4 linked regions of the Homo sapiens genome follow. The protein of the gene in region 4 interacts with the protein of the main gene of each other region in a pairwise test. Each region holds a gene or a part of one and is shown on either strand. Other genes may lie near its edges.

Region 1 (3,500 bases), on a different chromosome or scaffold from region 4:
TTTTGTCTGAAAGAAAAAAATGTCTAATTTTCATAGCAAAAGAAGTAGAAGCCACATAAGGGTCTATCAGCAGGAGACTAACAGATAAATCATGGTTCATCTACACAGTGGCATCCTATGCCACAGTAAAAAAAAAATGTGGAAAGTCTATGCACTGACATGGAATGATCTCTCAGATGTGGCAAATGAAAAAAAGCAATGTATGTAGTGAGTATGTTATTAATTGATTCATTGGCTTAAAAGGAATAAGATACATTTGCTTTTTTTTGTTGTTGCTGTTGAGAGTCTTGCTGTGTTACTCAGGCTGGAGTGCAGTAGCTCCATCTTGGCTCACTGCAGCCTCCACCTCCTAGGTTCAAGCAATTCCTCTGCCTCAGCCTCCTGAGTAGCTGGGACTACAGGTGCATGTTGGGCAGGCTGATCTCGAACTCTTGACCTCAGATGATTCATGTGCCTTGGCCTCCTAAAGTGCTGGGATTACAGGAGCTTATTTTTAAATTCTCTGGAAGGATCTACAAAAATCTGTAGCGTGGATTGCCATTGGGAAAGGGAAGTAGGAGGCTGAAGGGGGTAGAAGGAGAGTTTTCACTGGATCACTTAGGGCCTTTTGTGTTTTTCTTGCCCTATAGCGTTCTCTTCACCCCAGGAAGAAGAAGAAGCTGGATTTACTGGGCGCAGAATGAATTCCAAGATGCAGGTGTATTCTGGTTCCAAGTGTGCCTATCTCCCTAAAATGATGACCTTGCACCAGCAATGCATCCGAGTACTTAAAAACAACATCGATTGTAAGTCACACGCTTCTCTCTAGCTCTCAAGCACATTGTAGCACTTGGACCTTATCACTGGGTGGCTTGGCTGCTACTCAGTGTCTTCACCTTTGGTTTCTCTGCAGCAATCTTTGAAGTGGGAGGAGTCCCATACTCTGTTCTTGAACCCGTTTTGGAGAGGTGTACACCTGATCAGCTGTATCGCATAGAGGAATACAATCATGTGAGTATTCTGTTTGGGTGGGAAGAGGGCAGTTTTCTGGCTTGTACCTCCAGAAATAGCTTTGTCCCTGTGACTCCGCTGTGGCTGAAGGGCAGATCAGTGGTCAGAGCATTGTTCTGGATATATTTGGTTTGCCACTGGGCCTTTAAACAAGCATGTTATTAGCACTTGCTCCTGGCACCTTAAGTGGGCCTCTTGGGCTAGGATCAGGGTGGGATTCAAAGGGAGAAGAAAAACACTTAACATCTCCCTTGAGCTTGCCTAGTCATGAAGGTAAAGGGAGAATTCTGGCAGCAGAGTAGCTGGGACCCAGGGCGGGGAAAGCACTTTGTGTTGACACTCTGACATCTGGTGATTGGCTGGATGTCTCTTAAGAAACATCAAGATTTATCCAGAATCCTCCTTAGGATGTAGGGTATACACATTTGATTGCATCAGCTGTCTCTCTTTAATTCTGAAAGTTCTATGACCTAACACCTTTTTTTTTTTTTTTGGAGATAGGGTCTACCTCTGTTGCTTCGACTGCAGTACAGAGGCCTAATCATGGCTTACTGCATCCTTGAACTCCTGGGCTTAAGTGATCCTCCCAAGTAGCTGGGACTACAGGCACATACCACCACAGCTGGCTAATATTTTTATTTTTTAGAGAGATGGACTCTCAGACTCTTGGCCTCCTGAAGTGCTGGGATTACAGGCATGAGCCAACGCGCCTGGCCAATAACTTAACATCCTTCTTAGGTTGCCCCTTTGCCATCACAGTTCAGCGTAGTGTTGGGAAGTACCTGATTTGACTTGATCGCAGTTCTACCCTTTGCTGATTTTCTAAAGGAAAAGACTGATGTTACACAGATTTTTGTGATATTCTGTCACAGCCACCAAAAGCAACTAGCATAGTGCCTCACACTTCGCATTTTTAAAATTTAGGGAGTTATTTTTTTCCTAGAATTGTGGTATTTTAACATACTACTAAGATGAAGACCAAAAAATTTTTGGGAAACTGGTCACTCCTAGGTAATTAAATAATCAGAAAAAGATATGAGGCTGGGCATGGTGACACACGCCTGTAATCCCAGCACTCTGGGAGGCCAAGGTGGGCGGATTATCTGAGGTCAGGAGTTCGAGACCAGCCTGGACAACATGGCAAAACCCCATCTCTACTGAAAATATAAAATAGCTGGGCGTGGTGGTAAGCACCTGTAGTCCTGGCTACTTGAGAGGCTGAGGCGTGAGAATCGCTTGAACCCAGGAGGCAAGGGTTGCAGTGAACCAAAATTGCACCACTGCACTGCAGTCTACACGACAGAGCAAGACTCTGTCTCAAAAAAAAAAAAAAAATATGGAAAAGTGCTTGTACACAAATGATGTCCTGGTTCTGGTTTCAGGTATTAATTGAAGAAACAGATCAATTATGGAAAGTTCATTGTCACCGAGACTTTAAGGAAGAAAGACCCGAAGAGTATGAGTCGTGGCGAGAGATGTACCTGCGGCTTCAGGACGCCCGAGAGCAGCGGCTACGAGTACTAACAAAGAATATCCAGTTCGCACATGCCAATAAGCCCAAAGGTAACAGAGACGGGAGAGCTGGGGGAGAACTGGCAGGATGAGTGTTCTGGTCAATAGCAGGGTGTTGGTGGGCTTGGCTGGTGTAGGACTGCTTGCCCCTACATCAGGTAGCAGGGTGGGTATTTCTTCTGCCACCGCCCATTCTACCCTACAAGTGGGGTTTCAGGGCACTCAAAAAGCCCGTGGATTATTTAAATAACAGTAGCATCTCTGCTCAAGAAGGCAGATGTTCATCTCCATAATTCCACAGGCCGACAAGCAAAGATGGCCTTTGTCAACTCTGTGGCCAAGCCACCTCGTGACGTCCGGAGGAGGCAGGAAAAGTTTGGAACGGGAGGAGCAGCTGTCCCTGAGAAAATCAAGTAAGATCTGTGTTCTTACCTGGCTTTTGTGTGCTATCAACCCTTAGAGGTAGCCATAGCGGCAGGAAGCAAATTGCTTTTGGTGAAAGTGAGGCAGTGCAGACTGTGGGCTCTGGAGGCAGACCTCATCAGCTCAGCACTTCCCTCACCTCCCTCAGCCTCCGCTTCTTGGACTGCAGTGCAAGGTGATAATTACCCCTGCCCTAGGGTAGTCAAGATTAAATGGAGAGCAAAGCCTGGCTTATGGGAAACATTCCCTTATGCTTTCCCTTTTCCCATCTAAACAAAAAACACATTTCTGCAATGATTGTTATTTTGTCTAAGCCACATTAGCCTTTTCAAAATACAGATTTATACCAAAACAGTGAAAAGTTAGTTGAGATTATCATTTTTTCTGAAAGGATAATGGAGACATCTCTGAGCCACCACCAGAATCCAGGGTGATAGGGTCCATTGGTCAAAGCCACAAACAGGGTGAGTCATCCTCACACAGGCCAGCTTCAGGCTGTTCATGCTCAGGGCAGATTTCTTGTGCTCATGCCTAACCAGTGTTGTCCTGTGTTGCAGGATCAAGCCAGCCCCGTA
Region 2 (3,500 bases), on a different chromosome or scaffold from region 4:
TAACACCCACAGTATTAGTATGACATGAACTGTGGAGATATATCAGTAGCAATGGCACCAACTCACCTGTAGTGAGTTGACTACAGGTGAGTTGCAAAACCAAAAAACCCACCATCACTAACACGAACAAACAAAAAAACAGAATTTACTAGGCATGTCCATGTTTTATTTTCTTTAGGTGTTTTTCTGGAAAATTACATTTTCAAGGAATCAGCCCTTACAAACAGAGCTAATCTTTCAAAAAATAAAACCCAGTATCTAGATTCTCAAAACTTACAAAACCAACTGGAAATGTCTGGTTGTCATGCTCAATTCAGTTTCACATCACAAGTAATCATCTATAACTATTTCAGTAGGCAAATTCCAATTCTAAATATTACTAACGATTACCATTGTTATTCTCAACTGTGTTGACAATTGTCTTATTGCTGAATTGTTCATAATACATCTTCTTTGGCAACTTTATTAACACCATGGGACAACTAAAGGTCTGGATTAACTTAGTATTTCAAAACTTCATTATAATTATTTAAAAGTAAATGCTAGACTTAAATTATTTAAATTTAAATGCTAGATTTAAATTATTTAATTTTAATAAAATTTAAATTTAAATGCTAGAATAGGAAAGCCTCCAAACATGCCTAATATAACAAAAACAAAAATTGCTAAATAATCACTACTAAAAGCATTTCCATTGTATGTACAAGTATATAACTCAACTTTACCAACAAAAATATTATAATTTAGCTCCAATTCTCTATCAGACCTACTGTGATTAAAAAAAAACAAAAAATAAATGGAGAAAGCAACATCTGGGCACCTGTCAAATTTTTATGGAAGGTTGTTTTATATAAATTTTAAATGGCTTAAAATCAGCCAGAATGCGAATTTTTCACTATAATACTTTATAAACTTGTACTTTCTTTTTTCTTTCTTTCTTTTTTTGAGATGGAGTCTTGCTCTGTTACCCAGGCTGGAGTGCAGTGGCGCAATCTCGGCTCACTGCAACCTCTGCCTCCCAGGTTCAAGCGAGTCTCCTGCCTCAGCCTCCCAAGTAGCTGGGATTACAGGCACATACCACCATATCCAGCTAATTTTTGTATTTCTAGTAGAGACGAGGTTTCGCCACGTTGGTCAGGCTGGTCTTGATCTCTTGACCTCGTGATCTGCCTACCTCGGCCTCCCAAAGTGCTGGGATTACAGGCGTGAGCCACCACGCCCAGCCTAAACTTGTACTTAAATTATATATTGATAGCTTATTCATTTTTAATTCTTGTTCCATGGAATAAGCCTATTTTTGAGGCTTGGCACGATATTAACAAGAAATTTAAACAGGACGCTCATGTCCAGAAGTTTAACTAAAAAATCTTTTCTATATATAATATAACTACCAACTTAAATTACAAATTGCTTCCACTAAAAATTATCACTCCAAACTTCAGAAAAAGTAAATTAAAATAGGTTATGGCAAAAGGTACACTCTGAAGCATGTTCACATTACAAAGATAAATGATAAAGGTTAACCAGCAAAAATTCAAAAAGGCATATATGCAAACATCTGTATGCAAACTTTCATGAATAAGATATAAGAAATGATTCATTTGGCTAATTTTATGTACAGCTTGTATACAATTTAAAACAAGTACAACTGAATATGTTTCTATGTAAAAGCCACAATAAAGTTAAATGAAATACTAAATAAGTCTTACAAATTGGTCTCTTAGGAGTTCTCAAAAGAATTAGTAACTGAGTAACGTTAGATTCTAAGAAATGCCCTCTTCTTGATCTATCATTTCTGTTTTAACTGAAAACACATCTGCCAACATATGTTTTGGAATTTCTGACCCTCTGACTTTCAAGGCATAACAAGCATTCTCCACTTTGGCCAAACTTTGTTTCAAGGTATACAGCTTCTTAGAAACCTCGTAAGGTCCAGTGTTGCCAATGAATGAAAACCCATCATAAACCTGACGTAAAAACTGGCTCACTTCAAAGGGGGTATCAATGTCCCCATTCCCCACACTGTTAATACACATCCGCATCAATTCTCCAGTTAAGTCAGCCACTCCCAGAAGGTAATCGACAGGTGTGACTCTCAGTCTCCAAGTACCAAACTGCTTATCCTGTGCATCAGAGGAGGGCTGGTAAAAAAACAAAACAAAACAAAAACACACACACACACACACAAGAAAGAACACTGTGAAAAAGAGTGAATATAGCATGTATCACATTTATTATAGAAGTACAAAATCAATAGCAAATCAGTCATACTAATTTTTTCTAAATAAAATAAATCTGTTTTGCTTAATAACCACTTGGGATGTTACAGGAGGAATGTGTGCCCTGGGTAGTGAAATGAACCAGATGACTTCAAGATACTTTTGAAATATATCATTATGAAACCAACTATTTCCAACTCCACTTGATGTACAAAATAAAAATATTCTTGAACAAGGCTTAATAACTTTATTGCACGACAATTACTTTCTTAAATGAAAAACCATACAGCCCTCCAAGTTTGTGATCCATTAATGTTTTCCTAAGAAGCTCAGTCTTTTTCTGGCTTCTTGTCTTTCCCTATTCAGCACTCACCATCACAATTTATTATTCTCTCACTGCATCCTCAATTCCCTTAGACTGCTATATTTTCTACTGCACCTACCCAGCAAAAACAGAATCCTCAATCAATACTAAAATATACTCATTAGTCCTTTATTCAGGTGGCTGAGTACCACTCACTGAGTTAAAAAAAAATGGTAATCACAACTGCAGAGTCTGTACCGCTACAAATTACTCTCCAATCCTTTTACTTATCATTAGATGGTTCTCTTTCCAGCCTCTTCAAACACAATTTCAAACCTTTCACCACTCTCCTCAGGGCTCTACTCAAATCCCAAACCTCTTCACTTTCAGTAGACAACCTTGCCCAATTTCAGTGACCTGGTCATTTGCCAGCTTACCTAGCACAATTTCTCACAACTGCCTTTATCCCTACCAAAAAAAAAAAAAAAAAAAATTTATATCCACACCCATCTTTACCTTCTATCCTCCAGTCTCAGATGATGAGTTGTCCCTCCTCTTGTTTGAGGTTAACTCTTCCAAATGACCTTGACCCATCTCCTCCCACCTCTTCCAGGACCTTGCTTCATAAGGTGTATGCCCTTGGGCAAGTTATTTCATCTCTCTAAACCTCAGTTTCCTCATCTGTAAAATGGGATAACAGTACCTACCTCAGAGGTTTATTTTAAGGGTTAAATGAGAACATTTACCAAGTTCTTGGCATAATGCCCAACACAAAGTAAATATTCAACAAATGCTAGCTGCTATCATGATATCATCATGAAATCTCTCTCCACATCAATTTCCCTCTACTGAATTCTTTCTGGTAGAGACGATGCCTAAATTGTTATTAAAAGACGGTATGTATAAAAGGGTAGGTGAAGTTGCAGTTACATCAAAGGACATTTTAGGTAGTGGGAACTACAAAGGCATACAGGTAA
Region 3 (3,039 bases), on a different chromosome or scaffold from region 4:
AGGTGGCCCAAGTGGCTTCTGTGGTAGCCCACTGCACTCTCCATGGTACTGAAGGGATGACCATTTGTTTTAACATCTCTCTGGGGTCCAAAAGAGTCCTGTGACTTAGAATCACAAACTTTTTTCGAGCAGGAAGGGACTAACACTATAAATTAGTCCAATCCCCTTATTTTACTGATGAGTAAACTGGGAGGTTAAGTGATTTAGTAAAGGTTGTAGGGTTATCAATGTTCAGACTAGGCCTACAATAGCCTTGTACCCTTCAGTCCTATTCTAATTCACCTTTTGTGACACTATTCAGTAAGCCTGGCTAGGCTCTTAGTCCCAGGAAAGGATCCAGAGGATGAGAGTGGGTGCCCTAATTTGAAGCTACAGAAATACACATATTAAGTGGTAGTGGAGGTCGTCTAGTGACCCTTGGACAAGGACACTTTGTTAATTAATCATCTGCTAATAATAATCCTATAGCCCAGATTCCACATGTAACAGGTACCTGCCCCTTCATGGAGTTTTACCACATCCACTAAATGTCAAAAATTAAAGAAGCCTTGGACCTCCAGAGCCTTTTCTCTCTGCTGACAGGCAGGTTGACTCCTGGCACAGTTCTTTTCTATTAAAGATCCTTAGGCAAAGTAATGCTTGCATCTTTTTCTTTCTCAGTAACCCATTTCAGTTTTGTGATGCCTATTGTAAGGAAGTTCTTTATATCTCAAATATCCTTTCTTAGACAAAAAAAAAAAAAAAAAAAGGTTAGACCCACATTCATTTAGCCTTGACCAGATACTATTCTATATGAGGCAGAAAGGTAGACTAGATGACTTCTGGTCATCCTCCCAGGTCTGTTTCCATGAATCTTGATTCTGGGGTTTCTTCTAAGTCCTCATGCTAAACTCCTCTGCAGCTTAGGATCAGCACCCGCCCCCCCCCCCAACCCCTATCCTCTTCCTCTCAATGATCTTCTCCTTCCCCAGCACTGGAGCTCTGCAAGTCCCAGGCCTAGGGAATTTTAGCCTGGAGAATTTTAACCCTTTCCTGCTCAGAGCATGTGCTGAGTCCCTATCTGTGCAGATGGCCCAGCCCCGCCCCCCGTCCCTCACTCCAGCCTCTTGAGCTCAGAGCCAGTGTAATCCTCCTCTTGTGTGAGGGAGCCTCTCCCCTGCAGAGAGGAGGAAAGCCTGCCTCGGAACAGCCCTGGACAAAGGGGCTCAGATGCCCCATCATACTGCAGGCTCCAAGGTTTGAAACAAGGGGATGAATCCTATACGGTATTTGCAGTTTTTAGCCCCTTCCCCAGGCTAGCTGTGCCCCTTAACTTCCACTCCTCCCCCAACTCTCTCTTCATTCCCTCTCCCTCTGGCTCCCTCCCCCTTCATGCCCCTCCCCCTCTGTCTGTCTTCAGACTCTGCTGCTGGGAGGTGTTTCTCTCCCATGCATGAATGAGTCTCTGTAATGAATGGAAATGAATGGATCAGGAATCCAGGCGGAGGGAGGGAGAATGAGGGGGGAAAGACAGAAAGACAGGGTAAGGGCAGAAGGAAGCACTGTGGAACCTGGAAGGATGTTTGGCTGGCTGCTCAGTTAGGGATCTCAGAGCAACTGGTCCCACTTGGATAAATGGGGAGCATGGCAAGCCCACCTCATTTGCTCACCACACTGCATAGCCCAACCTACATGGGAGAGGGGCATATTGTGATGGTCTTCCCCACCGCCAGGGGGTGGGGTGGTAGCTGTGGTTGTTCTGGACCATGCATTTAAAATATAGAATTTGGGGAAGAAATCTGGATTATCTGGGAGGCTTGTAGGCTTGGCAAGTCAAGAGGTACAGTTTTTGAGTATAGCAGCCCCTTCGTGCCTCAAGAAGCAAGTAGGGAGAATGGATTGGTTTTGGGAATACAGAATGCTGAGAGTCTGGGGGTAGGGAGTGACTTTACTGCTGAAAACTAGGGCTCATCTTTTCCTCCAAATCTGTCTCTTGCTTTAGCTCCACAGCACCTGTTGCCTTCATTAGCAGCTTTTCCTCCTCTTCCCTGCACTTCCCAGAACCAAAGAATGTGAAGGGGGTCCATGGAGGTGAGTGAAGCTCTGGCTTCAACCTACAAGTACCTACAACTGTATACTCCCTCTCCTGCCTACCTCTCTCTCTCTTTGACCTCCCATTATTAGAAGTTAACTCCTTGGCCCTGACATCTCGATTCCCATACACCTCCCCCCACCCCATCTTCCCGAGGTGAGTAGCACCCTGTGTTCCTAGTTCAGGCCCCAGCCCACCTTCCCTCGTGTTGTCCTTCTGGCCCTCGAGGCGACGCCCTTGCTTCCTTTACAGCTCTACCTTCACCCTTTGCTCTACGCAGATCTTTCTCCACAGGGCTCACGTCCCCGCGCCCCGAGCGGCCACTTAGCGCCGTCGCCGCCGGCTTTCGACGGCGAGCTGGATCTGCAGCGATACTCCAACGGGCCAGCCGTGAGCGCAGGGTCGCTCGGGATGGGAGCGGTGAGCTGGTCTGAGAGTCGTGCAGGCGAACGGCGCTTCCCCTGCCCTGTATGCGGGAAGCGCTTCCGCTTCAACTCTATCCTTGCTTTGCACCTGCGGGCGCACCCAGGAGCCCAGGCCTTCCAGTGCCCTCACTGCGGCCACCGCGCGGCGCAGCGGGCTCTGCTGCGCTCGCACCTGCGCACACACCAGCCCGAGCGCCCACGTAGTCCTGCTGCACGCCTGTTGCTGGAGTTGGAAGAGCGCGCGCTACTACGCGAGGCCCGACTGGGGAGAGCCCGAAGCTCAGGGGGCATGCAGGCCACCCCTGCCACTGAGGGTCTGGCGCGGCCCCAGGCTCCTTCATCGTCCGCCTTCCGTTGCCCCTACTGCAAAGGCAAGTTTCGCACCTCGGCGGAGCGCGAACGCCACCTGCACATCCTGCATAGGCCCTGGAAGTGCGGCCTGTGCAGTTTCGGCTCCAGCCAGGAGGAGGAGCTGCTGCACCACAGCCTGACGGCCCACGGGGCTCCCGAGCGTCCCCTGGCGGCCACCTCCGCTGCGCCTCC
Region 4 (3,500 bases):
AATTAGCCGGGTGTGGTGGCACGTGCCTGTAGTCCCAGCTACTCGGGAGGCTGAGGCAGGAGAATCGCTTGAACCCGGGAGGCGGAGGTTGTAGTGAGCCAAGATTGCACCACTGCACTCCAGCCTGGGCGACAGAGCAAGACTCTGTCTCAATTTAAAAAAAAAAAGTTTTATATCCACCCTGTGGCCCTGCTTTGCCTTAGCCTCTACCACTTATCATCTGCTGTTTCTACAGCCGCCTCCCTGGTCTCTTCACTTCTAGTTTCTTCTACTTAGTTCACACCACAGAGGCTGTTCTGACCTGCAGATCTTATGACATCACTCCTTTACTTAATACATTCCAGTGCCCCAGTCCTGCTCCTAGTTCAGAGCCCCTGGTATTCACATAACTGCTGGCTTCACTGACTGACTCCTCACTGCTTCCTGCCTCCAGCCTCCATGGTATCATGATTCTTGCAGAGTGAGGCAGGGGCAGACATTCTTCCATAAATCCAGCTTGTTTCCCTGCATCTGCCCTGGGCCAGCACTGGGCTAGTCGTAGAGACTTCCTACATAGTCCCCTTCCTCCTCCAACTCCTCCCAGGAACTGGAAGTGCTCTCAGAGAGAGCTACGTTAAACCTGCCACCACCCCTTATTCATCAAGACATTTCAGCTTAATTGTTCCTTCGACAAATAGTTACTGAGTACCCACCACATGCTCTATGTTCTGGAAATACAGTTGTAAGCAGCACAGAATGATCTCCACTCTTGGGTAGCTTACATTCTGGGGGTGGGATGAGGAGAAAGATGATAACAGTAAACAAATAATACTAGTAGTGATAGCTGACATTTATATGGTGCTTACTGTGTGCCAAGTCCTGTTTGAAGTACTCTACATTATTCACTCATTTAATCTTTGAAATAAGCCTATGAGATATTAGTATCCCTATCTGACAGATGAGGAAAACTGAGTTCCAGGGAGATTAAGTAATTTGTCACACAGCTAGTAAATGGCAGAGCAGAAATTCACATTCAAGCAGTCTGGTTTCAGAATCTGTGCTTGTTACAAAAGAAAATTTTGATTAGTACTAGGTAAGAAAGAAATGAACAGTGCTGTGACAGAGAGTACTGGAATTTTCTGTGTTGAGGGATACTACTTTAAAGGCAACATCTGAGCAGAGCACTGAGGGATGCAAAGAAGCCAGTTAGGTGAAGAACTGGATGAGAGGATTGGTGTTCTGGGTAGAAAATATTGCAAGCAGGCCGGGTGCGGTGGCTCATGCCTGTAATCCCAGCACTTTGGGAGGCCGAGGCAGGTGGATCACCTGAGGTCAGGAGTTCAAGACCAGCCTGGCCAACATGGCGAAACCCCGTCTCTAATAAGAATACAAAAATTAGCCGGGCACGGTGGCGCATGCCTGTAGTCCCAGCTACTCAGGAGGCTGAGGCAGGAGAATCACTTGAACCCGGGTGGCGGAGGTTGCAGTGGGCTGAAATCGTGCCACTGTACTCCAGGCTGGGTGACAGAGCGAGACTCCATCTCAAAAAAAAAAAAAAAAAAAAAAGAAAGAAAATATTGCAGGCAATAAAATAAAAATTCTCTGTAGGCCTCGATATTCTCATCTGAAAATGGGGACAAGGAATTTTCTCAGGACTGCTTTGAGAAGTGTACTTCAGCCAGGAGTTGGGCAGGGGGCTGGCTTAGTTGTATTGGCATTGTATACCTCTCCAAGACTAACGGCTGGCAATGCAGGAGCTGTCATCAGTGTTGGCCCTGGAAATGCCCTGCGAGCTCTTTGTGGTGCTTAGGATGAGAGGGAGCTATCTCTGGGCCCAGGATCCAGCCCTCCACAGAAGAGGGGTTGCAGTGAGGCTGTCTGTAGCACTAACAACTTCCAGAGGAGCCTGAGGTCTTGGATTGCATCTCTGAGGTTGGGAGTAGGAAGAGGAAAATGGTTTTTGGTGTCCTCATACTTGGTATGCTCTTGGTATTCTCTGACTCTGCCACTTAAAAGATGTGTGAATTTGAACTTGTTTAACATCTCTGTGCCTCAATGTCCTTATTTGTAAAGTGGGAGGGCACCTATATCATAGGGTCATTATGGGAATTAAGTGAATTGTAAAGTACATGGACAAATGCTATGTAGGTTTCAGCAAATACTGCTCTGATTCTCTGCTTCTCTGCCCCTTCTCTTCCTCTGTTCAGCTCTGCAGCCAGATGGAACAGCTGGAGCAAGAGAACCAGCAACTGAAGGAGGGGGCTGCAGGAGCAGGGGTTGCCCAAGCTGGGCCCCTCGTGGATGGGGAGCTGCTGAGGCTACAGGCTGAAAACACAGCCTTGCAGAAGAACGTGGCAGGTGCATAGAGGCCCTCCTGGGGATGCGGAGACATTGGGGCTTGAGTAGGGCAAGGAAGGCCGTCATCCTCTCAGGGGAAGGAGAAGGGCTTCAGAAATAGGGTTGGCCCATGCCCTGTGTGGCTTTGGACAAGCCATTTCACCTCTCTGAGCCAAAGCCTTATCATCTACACAGTGCATGTAGTGATGTCTGTCACCCAGAAGATTGTAGTAGAGATAAAAGGTGATATCATTCTGCATTAGTTCAGTGTCTGGTACCTAGCAGATGTTACAGATTAGCAGCTTGAATGTCAAAAAGGAGATATTTGCGGCCGGGCGCGGTGGCTCACGCCTGTAATCCCAGCACTTTGGGAGGCTGAGGCGGGCGGATTGCGAGGTCAGCAGATCAAGACCATCCTGGCTAACATGGTGAAACCCCGTCTCTACTAGAAATACAGAAAATTGGCCGGGCACGGTGGCGGGCGCCTGTAGTCCCAGCTACTCTGGAGGCTGAGGCAGGAGAATGGTGTGAACCTGGGAGGTGGAGCTTGCAGTGAGCCGAGATCACACCACTGCACTCCAGCCTGGGCGACAGAGCGAGACTCCATCTCAAAAAAAAAAAGGAGATATTTGCTAAGTGAAAAAGTGAATGGAGTGTTGGGAAGATTCTGAGCCCAGATTGTAAGTGGGGTCTGGGATGAAAGCTGAAAGAAAGCTTGATAGAGTGTGGGAGCATGTGGTGTGTGGAACTTTGGAGAGCAGCTGGGACTTCTGTGGTGATGGATGCTGGTTCCATGACCAGGAGGGAGACTTAGTAGAATGTGAGTAGGAATTAGGAGGCTCTAGGAGGGATTCAGCTGTAAGTCAGTGGTAGCATATGGTGGGCATGGCCTTCAAGGGCTATGGGTGGGGCTTCAAGGATTGAGAATGGGATTTGTGAAACCAGCTTGGGCTAATTTAATAGTAAACAGAATCTTAGTGGTTGATAGGGCTTAAAATATTTGTGAGAGCCTGGGCACAGTGGCTCATACCTTGATTCCAGCACTCTGGGAGGCTGAGGCAGAAGGATCTCTTGAGGCTAGGAGTTTAAGACCAGCCTAGGCAACATAGCAGGAACTTGTGTGTACTAAAAATAAAATAATTAGGCCAGGCACGGTGTTTCACACCTGTAATCCTAGCACTTTG

The links. The genes of interacting proteins can lie anywhere in the genome.
Region 1: the proteins of GRIPAP1 (region 4) and ELOA interact in binary tests that used the Homo sapiens proteins (3 or more experiments, as listed by UniProt).
Region 2: the proteins of GRIPAP1 (region 4) and TSNAX interact in binary tests that used the Homo sapiens proteins (3 or more experiments, as listed by UniProt).
Region 3: the proteins of GRIPAP1 (region 4) and ZNF219 interact in binary tests that used the Homo sapiens proteins (3 or more experiments, as listed by UniProt).

What each region holds. Positions count from the first base shown.
Region 1 is NC_000001.11:23,753,471-23,756,970, forward strand, and holds part of ELOA (elongin-A), read left to right. Parts: intron 1-629; coding exon 630-785; intron 786-892; coding exon 893-990; intron 991-2,372; coding exon 2,373-2,553; intron 2,554-2,803; coding exon 2,804-2,915; intron 2,916-3,482; coding exon 3,483-3,500. UniProt on the Homo sapiens protein: SIII, also known as elongin, is a general transcription elongation factor that increases the RNA polymerase II transcription elongation past template-encoded arresting sites.
Region 2 is NC_000001.11:231,563,169-231,566,668, reverse strand, and holds the end of TSNAX (translin-associated protein X), read right to left. Parts: intron 2,142-3,500; coding exon 1,764-2,141; 3' UTR 145-1,763; downstream 1-144.
Region 3 is NC_000014.9:21,092,617-21,095,655, reverse strand, and holds part of ZNF219 (zinc finger protein 219), read left to right. Parts: intron 1-1,981; 5' UTR 1,982-2,064; coding exon 2,065-2,070; intron 2,071-2,365; coding exon 2,366-3,039. UniProt on the Homo sapiens protein: Transcriptional regulator. Recognizes and binds 2 copies of the core DNA sequence motif 5'-GGGGG-3'. Binds to the HMGN1 promoter and may repress HMGN1 expression. Regulates SNCA expression in primary cortical neurons.
Region 4 is NC_000023.11:48,992,265-48,995,764, reverse strand, and holds part of GRIPAP1 (GRIP1-associated protein 1), read left to right. Parts: intron 1-2,186; coding exon 2,187-2,337; intron 2,338-3,500. UniProt on the Homo sapiens protein: Regulates the endosomal recycling back to the neuronal plasma membrane, possibly by connecting early and late recycling endosomal domains and promoting segregation of recycling endosomes from early endosomal membranes.